Linked DNA regions of Homo sapiens. The protein of the gene in region 1 interacts with the protein of each later gene in a pairwise test. Each region holds a gene or a part of one and is shown on either strand. Other genes may lie near its edges.

Region 1 (5,227 bases):
ACCCCACAGAGCTCACTGTAGTGTTTGACATGTCACCTCTAACAAAGATAGTAAATAACACTTTATTAACTTGGAAAAAATGCTTTGACTCAATGTGCTTAGAAATTCCTATTTGACAATAATCTACTGAGGAAAAACGCTATCATTTGGGTGAAGTGTTAACCTGTAGTAGTTATACATACACACAGTACTCTTTAATTTTGTCAGGCAGTAATGTGCTGTATTAGTTATGTTTTATGACTTAATTCTCAGTTGTGTTAGTAAAGATGCTTACTACTTATAAGAAGTATTAATAATAAGTGCTTGGTAAAAATTATAGAGCTTTGTTCAGTTCTAGCTAGAGACAAACTTAAGACTACAGATGGTGTTAAAGAAAGCACAACTCTTACAAAATAGCTCTAAAATAGAGTTGCTTTCTGATTTTCCATATTCATTTTAAGTTTTAGTTATCAAATTTGATAAAGCAATTGGCCATTGAGTCATAGTTTTCACTAGTTTGAGCCAACCCCAAAATTAAAATCTGGGAAACAATCTAATATCAAAATATTAAATTCTTAAATATCTCTCCAAAAAAAGGTTTGGAAACTGTCAAGCACTACCAAGATTATCTTACACAGAATCAAAGTACTAATTAAATGAGGAGGTTCTCTTGAATGTCACAACACAACATTCCTTTTAACACAGTATCACCCCACTATTAATGCAATTTTCAAATACAATGTATCTTAAATATTAAATTTATGAAAATTTCAAAGTAACAGACTTCCTTATAGATGAGATACACAATAACAATTTTGATATTCCTTTAAGCTGTTTAAAAGTGATGCTAACTATATCTTTAAAAAAGTCTATTTAACGTAAAAGATTTTGGATAAAAACCAGTAAGTTTCTTAATGATCCTGAACCAGGTAATAAAATGTTGAGGATGCTGAAGAAGGTTAAATCCAGGTAAGCTTCAAGAACAGAAGTCATCCATCTTTAAATATTAGACATTTGCTGGCCAGAAGGCGAAAGTAAGACTTCAGGATATATTGTGGGTCCTTGCAGTTCACATTCTAGTATGTTGGCACAAAATAAAGATAGGTCCCAAAACCTATGGGTATTTTCAAGTTTAGTGTTTTAGAAATATATAATCCTTGAACCAACCACAAAATAATGTATGGCTTATATTTACTTTGTCAGTTTAAGTAATAGAAAAAATGCCTATTTGTTCTGTGGTGACTATTCATTGTGGTGACAGTTTCATTTTCCTCTTCACATTTTCGGTGACCGTTCTCCATTCGTATCATCAACCAGGTCTCTCAGGCGAGATAAATGGTGCAAAGCCCTTCATTAAAAAGTATAAAACACATTATAAACCAGTTATTAAGAACTGAATAGCCAATGCAGACAGCAAAAAAATAAATAAAGTTGACTATTAACTTCAAAATTGGTATGAGAAGTAAATTTATATAAACTTTGAGACTTATTCCTTATAAAACCTTGAGATCTGAATAATTGAGGGTTAAAATAATTTATCTAAAGTTCTATAAACATTTACTTTAAAAATTATATTTTTTGACATTAACTTTTTTTAAGATAGTCTGCCAAGTGCCCTAACAAGAAACAATAGGTATCAGTTGTATCACACTTAACAAGAACACTTTTTTCAAGTAATTTTCACTACAGCTCTGTGAAATGACACCTTTGCTTTTGGTATCCTGTGTATATTAGTTAAGAAGTAAAATACAGAAATTATTTTTAACATTTACATTCAAGATAGCTATTTTTTAAATAGCATTTAAGGATTAGTTACAGATCTGAACAAAACTCATTTTTATTGATCATAGGGGAAGCTGCCAACTACTCCAATAAGTCTATATAATGTGTTGTTATACCAACAACCTAGATTTTTCTCTGAAATAATGCCAAGATTGTATTGCAGGTCTCAGTGGAGAAAACTCAATCATTCCTCAAACCAGGAAAAGAGGCCCTTAACTTTCCAAGCCTTCTCTAATTTATATTTTTCCAGTTTTTCTCTCCCCTATATTTCAGTTCCTGGAGGACCACTCAGAAAACATCAATTAGTCATATTTCAGATCTTTAATAAATAAGAAGGATATTAAGGAAAAACAGAGTGACAATATAGTAATTAAGATGTGCAGGAAGGGCCGGAAGCAGTGGCTCACGCCTGTAATCCATGCACTTTGGGAGACTGGGATGGGCATATCACCTGATGATATGACCACCTGAGGTCAGGAGTTCGAGACCAGCCCGGCCAACATGGTGAAACCCCATCTTTATTAAAAATACAACAGAAAATTAGCCAGGCGTGGTGACTGGCATCTGTCATCCCAGCTACTCAGGAGGCTGAGGCAGGAGAATCGCTTGCCAGGAGGTGGAGACTGCAGTGACCCATGATCGCGCCACTGCACTCCAGCCTCCAGCCTGGGCAACAAAAGCGAAACTCTATCTCAAAAAAACAAAATTAAATTTAAAAAAAAAACATAAGCTGTGTAATAACCTCCAATGTTAGTAATTTCCATTTATGGTGAGCAGAAAGGTAATGACTACAACACTCTATTCTATAGTCTCTAACACACAGTAGTTGTTCAATAAATGTATAATAAACTGCATCTTCCACTTTACCCAGGACAAGGAGATGGAAGGAAACTAGTAGCATTATTTACTGCATGTATATCTATTTCCCTGTACTATACACTTCTTGGATACTTTTACTCAAATGTAATAAGAAGACTCTCAATTCTCTCACCTTTTTTGGCAACTTCAGTTAATTTCTGAGATTCCCACCTTCATTGACTAAGTGACAATAATTCACCCAAAGTTACTAACCAATCAGAGGTAAAATAACTAAAATTTTAAAATATTCAGCTGGGCGTGGTGGCCAGTACTGTAATCCAGCACTTTGGGAGGCCGAGGTGGGTGGATCACCTGAGGTCAGGAGTTCAAGACCAGCCTGGCCAACATGGCAAAACCCCGTCTCTACTAAAAATACAAAAATTAGCCAGGCATGGTGGCACGTGCCTGTAATCCCAGCACTTTGGAAGGCCGAGGCAGGTGGATCACCTGAGGTCAGGAGTTTGAGACAAGCCTGGCCAACATGGCGAAACCCCATCTCTACTAAAAATACAAAAATTAGCCGGGCATGGTGGCATGCACCTGTAATCCCAGCTCCAATGAGTCTTCCTAGAGAACACATATTTCTAATTGAAGAATATAAGAAAACTGAGTATTTAAGGGACTAGACAAGGCCAGACTACTAGCTTACAGTTCCCTATGGCTAATGAAATATATCTTAAAACTGGATAGCCATCCAAATTATTAAAAACAAAAACTGTTATTTGAGGAATGTAAAGAGCCATAATAGGATTTTACCTTAGGAAAGGCCAATAAAGCCTACAAAGTATAATCAGTAACTTTTGAAATATTTTGGAAATATTTTGTAAATTTTGAAATACATTTGAAATATTTGAAGTATGAAAAGATGACCATATACCTAACCAGAATATTTTGCCGCCTGGAAAAAGGAATTCTGAGATGTAATTAAATTTAAATTGTCCTTAAAACAGTTAATCTACAGACTGAAAATAACTTTTGTAAGTCTAAGCTTACTTCATTACAGTACAAACGTCTTACTGATAATACTTTAGAAATGTAAAGACAAATTAAGACTGCTCCAGTTAATACAACAGAATTAATAACTAAAGGCCATCTAACAAAACATAAAACTTACTCTCTCTAAAAATGAAACTCCATATACAGGTAAGACTATTGATTGCTTATAGTAGAAAAAAAGTTACTATTAAAAAAATTCTAGCAAATGGTAAAAGCACTTATAGATCAGTATCGATTTTTGTGGTGATTAAATGACTTACAATCCACTGTTAGTTTTCACCAGGAAAAACATCTAGGATATGTACATTAACTCAGAAAACACATATAGGTCTGTGACAAGTGCAGTATAATGCTTTAAAGAGCAATGGAAAACTTATGGTCATTCACCTCAAATTTTAAAGCAGAATGAAGTCTTCATACTAGATGATCAACTGAGGCCCTGTTCTTAGTCTCAATGAATAATTCATCACTATCATTAGTGAGAGTAGTGTTAAAAATACAGACTTTCAAATCACACTACCTGATCTGAATCCCGCTTCTTTTACTAGCTATGGCAAGTTACTTTACTACTCCATGCCTATTCTCCGATCTGTATTATGAAAATAATAATAGTACTTACTTCATAAGGTTGTGAAGATCACATGAATTATATTCAATAGCACTTAGAATACTGAAATTTGGTAAACATTCAATGTTAGCTATTACTATCATTATTCACTGAATTCTATTAGGTATGAAACATTATACCCCAGTACTATGGCAAGCTACAAACAAAGGTGCATTATTTATACCCTAAAGATAATAAATTAAGTAGAGAGAAAAAAGTAATCATACATGATACATTTTAACTATGAAAACTATATACACATTTGTGACAATTAGATTCGTAAGTTTACATGTCTAGTGTTTTATTTTCCACCAGTTCCTTAGATCACAGAAGCCTAAGCAAATTCTCAAAGTACAAAAGGTAGCCAAGTGAAATGGTGTGACTAGAGTAGAAACTTTTAATCTCAGTATTTCCTAAGTTCAGTATTCCATCTTCTGAGGACACTTCATAGTCACACAACAAACTCCAAAATAAATACCCTTCTCTTCTGTCAATATCATGACTATAGAAACAACTTGTATTTTTCTCCATTTTATTATTTAAGACACTGTAACTAAGAAAATTAGACCTATCTTTATATCCAGGTCATTATATCTACTTTAGATTTCTGTAATGATGTTCCAAATCACGATCCATTTATTATTAAATTTATTCTAGAGAGAATATATGAAAACACATTTCATACAAGTTACTGTTATAGGATACTCACAAAAATACTATCATAAATTGTTGCTATTACTACTCAAAAATGAGTCATATCCATTATATTTTAGAGGTCTAAGGCTATCTCATTAGGTCCTTAGAACACTTTGAATAGGAAAAAGCACAAGTTTAAAAGAAAACAATGTTTTTTAGTGTAAACAGTGTGCTCCAAGAAGCTTAAATATGCCTAGTAGTGCTACTCTTAAAACTACTTACTTCTACCCTGTAACTTTACATATGTCAAAGAAATGGCTAAGATGGATTTGTATCCATATTAGTAAAGAATACTTACTTCTGAAGTGA
Region 2 (5,227 bases), on another chromosome or scaffold:
ACAGTATCCCTTACTGTACACATAAAATGAAGGGATAAACAGTATAGAAAGAGGTGTTACATTTTGTTACAGACCCCATGGACTGTGGTTGGTATCTCTAGAGGAGTTAGTCACATCTCTAGGAAAAACCTTCTAAAGGATCTAACCAGCTCATGATGATATGCCCCCTTCTCAGGACTTGCCTTCTTCCGTCCTCAGAGACACAGAAGTGGATTCGTAACAGCTATATTTGTACCAAAGATTTTGTGTGCTCCACCCCCACACTAGCTACAGTTAGATTAGAGGCAGTCAAGCTGAGCCAGTCAGTCAACTAAGAGTCACTTCCTTGAGGTAGCTGGCCCTGTGTCACATACACTCACAAGCAGTGGGGGCTGCGTACCTGCCATGAAGACCAAAGAACGGCAATCTATAAAATAAGAATGGAGATGTAGAGAGGACAGATGAGATGAGAGAGGAAAAAAGAACTAAAGTTTCTAGCTCCTGAGACCTCACCTCATTCCTGCCACTGGGTTCTGTAGGATATTTCTTTATCTTTCCAATAAATGCTTTTTTTTTTTTGCTTAAGCAGATCTGGGCCAGCACTTTGGGAGGCCAAGGCAGGCAGATCACTTGTGGTCAGGAGTTCGAGACCAGCCTGACCAACATGGTGATACCTCGTCTCTACTAAAAATGCAAAAATTAGCCAGGTGTGGTGGCGGGTGCCTGTAATCCCAGCTACTCGGGGAGGCTGAGGCAGGAGAATCGTTTGAACCCAGGAAGCGCAGGTTACAGTGAGCCGAGATTGTGCCACTGCACTCCAGCCTGGGTGACAAAGCAAGACTCCATCTCCTCCCTAAAAAAAAAAAAAAAAAAAAAAAAAAAGCAAAGCAGATCTGAATTACTTTCCATTACCTGAAGTCCTGAAGTCAATGTTTTAATTAATACAGCATCTCCAGTTGAGAAATACCCTGTCAAGTTCCTAATCACTTCAAGAAATGTCACAAAAGTTTCAGAAATATCCTGTCATTCAGTTCTCTTATCAAAAAAAAAAAAAGCCAACCATGTGGACCCCACTGGCTGAATGCCCCATCTAGCATCTAGCCTCTCTCCATACCTCTCTAGGTAGGAGGAAAGTTAGTTAGCTTCCAACCCTAGACTGACGTGGCCTCCCCATGCCACAGCAACATCATGTCCTTATTTAAGATTTCTTCTAATTCTAACCACTCATGGACATCCATCTTTTTTTTTTTTTTTTTTTTTGAGCTGGAGTCTCACTCTGTCACCCAGGCTAGAGTGCAGTGGTTCGATGTCACCTCACTGCAACCTCTGCCTTCCGGGTTCAAGTGATTCTTCCACCTCAGCCTCCCAAGTAGCTGGGACTACAGGTGTGTGCCACCACGCCCGGCTAATTTTTGTATTTTTAGTAGACACGGGGTTTCACCATGTTGGCCAGCCTGATCTCAAACTCCTGACCTCAAGTGATCTGTCTGCCTCATCCTCTCAAAATGCTGGGATTACAGGTGTGAGCCACCACACCCGGCGACATCCACTTTTTTTTTTTTTTTTGAGATGAAGTCTCACTCTGTCACCCAGGCTGGAGTACAATGGCACGATCTTGGCTTACTGCAACCTCCGCTCCTGGGTTGAAGTGATTTTCCTGCCTCAGCCTCCCGAGTAGCTGGGATTACAGGCGCCTGCCACCACATCTGGCTAATATTTGTATTTTAGTAGAGATGGGGTTTCACCACATTGGCCAGGCTGGTCTTGAACTCCTGACCTCCTATGATTCACCCACCTCAGCCGCCTAAAGTGCTGGGACTACAAGTGTGAGCCACTGGGCCCAGCTGACATCCACCTTTTTTTTTTTTTTTTTTTTTGAGATGGAGTTTTGCTCTTTTTGCCCAGACTGGAGTGCAATGGCGTGATCTCAGATCACCGCAACTTCTGCCTCCTGGGTTCAAGAGATCCTCCTGCCTCAGCCTCCTGAGTAGCTGGGATTACAGGCATGCACCACCATGCCCAGCTAATTTTGTATTTTTAGTAGACACAGGGTTTCTCCATATTGGTCAGGCTGATCTCGAACTCCTGACCTTGTGATCCACCCGCCTCAGCCTCCCAAAGTGCTGGGATTACAGGATTACAGGCGTGAGCCACTGTGCCCGGCCCACCTTTTTTTTTTTTTTGAGACGGAATCTCGCTCTTTCACCCAGGACGGAGTGCAGTGGTGCTATCTCGGCGCACTGCAAGCTCCGCCTCCCGGGTTCATGCCATTTTCCTGCCTCAGCCTCCGGAGTAGCTAGGACTACAGGTGCCTGCCACCACGCCCAGCTAATTTTTTGTATTTTTAGTAGAGACAGGGTTTCACCGTGTTAGCCAGGATGGTCTCGATCTCCTGACCTGGTGACCCGCCAGGCTCGGCCTCCCAAAGTGCTGGGATTACAGGCGTGAACCACCGCGCCCGGCCCACCTTTTTAAAAAAGAGAAGAATTAGGTGATCCTTCCCTCCTATTCATTAAACGCTTACTGAGCACTAACTAGAGCATGTTCTGTGTCTGGCTGGACTACAAGATCTTAAAGGACTTAAAGTCTTGATGGAGACAAAGGGAGAGTCAGGAAATGTGTAGAAAAATTAAAAAAGGCAAAGATATAGACTAATTCGATGTGGTGAGTGAAAGAGAGGCAGCAGTCATAAAGATGACTCCCAGGTTTCCAGCTAAGATTACTGAGTAGATAATGGTGCTACTGATTACTCAAGAGAAAACAGCAGACAAAGAGGGCTAAGGAAGATGATGGGTTTGGATTTGAACACATTAAACTTGAGGCAGCTAAGAGACATATAGGCAGAGATGTCCCTCAGGTAGCTGAAGCTGGAGAATCTGAAGCTCAGAAGAAAGGAATAAACCAGAGGTAGGTTTGGGAGTCATCAGCATTCAGGTAATGTTTGAAGCCCTGTAAGTAGAGAGAACGAAAAGAACTGCAGGATAAGAGTAGATCCCAGCCGGGCACAGTGGCTCATGCCTGTAATCCCAGCACTTTGGGAGGCCGAGGTGGGCAGATCATGAGGTCAGAAGATCGAGACCATCCTGGCTAACACGTTGAAATCCTGGCTAACACGTTGAAACCTGGTCTCTACTAAAAATACAAAAAATTAGCCGGGCGTGGTGGCAGGCGCCTGCAGTCCCAGCTACTCGGGAGGCTGAGGCAGGAGAATGGCGTGAACCCGGGAGGTGGAGCTTGCACTGAGCCGATATAGTGCCACTGCACTCCAGCCTGGGCGAAAGAGCGAGACTCTCAAAAAAAAAAAAGAGTAGATCCCTAGGAATCACCTACAATTAGAGTGGGGTAGAAGACTAAGAAACCCACAAAGGGGAGAGAGAGAGAGGGAGAGAGGGAGAGAGAGAGAGGAAAGGGTAGTGAGGGAGGGAGGAGAAGAACCTGGAAAGTAATGGCACCATGGAGGCCAAAGGAGTAGAGTTGCACAGAGAAAGCAGCAACAGTGCCGAACAGAAACCTCAGGAAGATCAGCAAACACTTAGAAGACATAGGATCAAGGGAGACTCATGTTAGGATGTGAGGGGCTCACATATATTTACAGGCTGAGAGAGAGGAGCCTATAAAAAGGAGTAATCACAGAAAACAGGAAAGGCAATAAACGATGAGGCAGTCTGACAGGAGACAGGAAGGAAAGGGAACAAGGGCAGAGGTGGAAGGGTAAGCCCAGCAGCAAGGACGCCTCATCCAGTGACACAGGAGACTAAGAGGTAAATGTCACTGTGCAGTGGTGGAGGGGCTCTGAGGAGCTCACACTGGATGTCTCCATTTTCCTGATGAAGGAGGTACTGACCCTGTCTGCAGTCAACAGAGGGGAACTGGGAACGGCCATCGAGGTGTGGAGTGGCTGTCCAGTCAACCTCTCTTGCTTTGCTGTTGCTATCAAAGGACACAGCACTTTAAATTCCAAAAAGTGATATGTTATTTATTTATTTATACCTTGCCCTGTTCCAGAAAGAATTTCAGGCAGCAAAGTCATATGTAAGTTTTGCTGGACTGCCTATCAAGGGCAGGAACTGAAATTTTCCTATGCTTTCCAGGCAATGAGAAGTGAGTCGGGGAACGGAACCCACGATGCGTCAGAGGAGTGTTCCAGTTGCACACACACTCCCCAGCCACCTGGCAGCTCAGTCTATAATCTGGAGGCTTCCACATCTACAGCTCCATACAAATGAACCTCTGGTTCTAAAGAAGTTTCTTCCTTGTCTGGTTCTCACTTTCTAAACCTCAGTCTCTGGAGAGAAAAGGAGTCCTGGAGGATGAACAAGGCGAGCTTGGAGTAATTTGGAAAAGCTAATGTTGTAGGACAGAAGCAAAGCCTGCAAGTCACAGCCTAGGTTCCCTGAGTGATGTTTTCAGCAGTAAACTGCAACTTCAAAGCTAAGAGCCATCCTAATAATTTGCCATAAAAGGTAGCTTGTTAAAAATGAGTCAAAAAGGCCGGGTGCAGTGACTCACGCCTGTAATCCCAGCGCTTTGGGAAGCTGAGGCGGGCGGATCACAAGGTCAGGAGGTCGAGACCATCCTGGTTAACACGGTGAAACCCCGTGTCTACTAAAAATACAAAAAATTAGCTGGGCGTGGTGGCGGGCAGCTGTAGTCCCAGCTACTTGGGAGGCTGAGGCAGGAGAATGGCGTGAACCCGGGAGGCAGAGCTTGCAGTGAGCCGAGATTGCGCCACTGCACTCCAGTCTGGGTGACAGAGCAAGACTACATCTCAAAAAAAAAAAAAAAGGGGGCTGGGCACAGTGGCTCACGCCTGTAATCCCAGCCCTTTGGGAGGCCGAGGCAGGTGGATCACCAGGTCAGGAGATTAAGAACATCCTGGCTAACACAGTGAAACCCCGTCTCTACTAAAAATACAAAAAATTAGCCGGGTATGGTGGTGGGCGCCTGTAGTCCCAGCTACTCAGAAGGCTGAGGGAGGAGAATAGAACAGCGTGAAGCCGGTAGGCGGAGCTTGCGGTGAGCCGAGATCACGCCACTTCACTCCAGCCTGGGCGACAGAGCAAGACTCTGTCTCAAAAAAAAAAAAAAGAAAAAAAGAAAAAAAAAAGAGTCTTCTTTTTTTGTTTTTGAGACAGAGTCTCGCTCTGTCACCCAGGCTGGAGTGAAGTGGTGTGATCTCGGCTCACTGCAATCTCCGCCTCCTGGGTTCAAGCAATTGTCCTGCCTCAGCCTCCTGAGTAACTGGCAT

The links. Proteins that work in one complex are often made in the same cells at the same time.
Region 2: the proteins of C18orf54 (region 1) and GLE1 interact in binary tests that used the Homo sapiens proteins (3 or more experiments, as listed by UniProt).

The regions. Positions count from the first base shown.
Region 1 is NC_000018.10:54,374,274-54,379,500, reverse strand, and holds part of C18orf54 (lung adenoma susceptibility protein 2), read right to left. Parts: coding exon 5,217-5,227; intron 1,328-5,216; coding exon 1,255-1,327; 3' UTR 1-1,254. UniProt on the Homo sapiens protein: Might play a role in cell proliferation.
Region 2 is NC_000009.12:128,527,844-128,533,070, reverse strand, and holds part of GLE1 (mRNA export factor GLE1), read right to left. Parts: intron 4,461-5,227; exon of another isoform or gene 4,071-4,460; intron 407-4,070; coding exon of another isoform or gene 380-406; intron 1-379. UniProt on the Homo sapiens protein: Required for the export of mRNAs containing poly(A) tails from the nucleus into the cytoplasm. May be involved in the terminal step of the mRNA transport through the nuclear pore complex (NPC).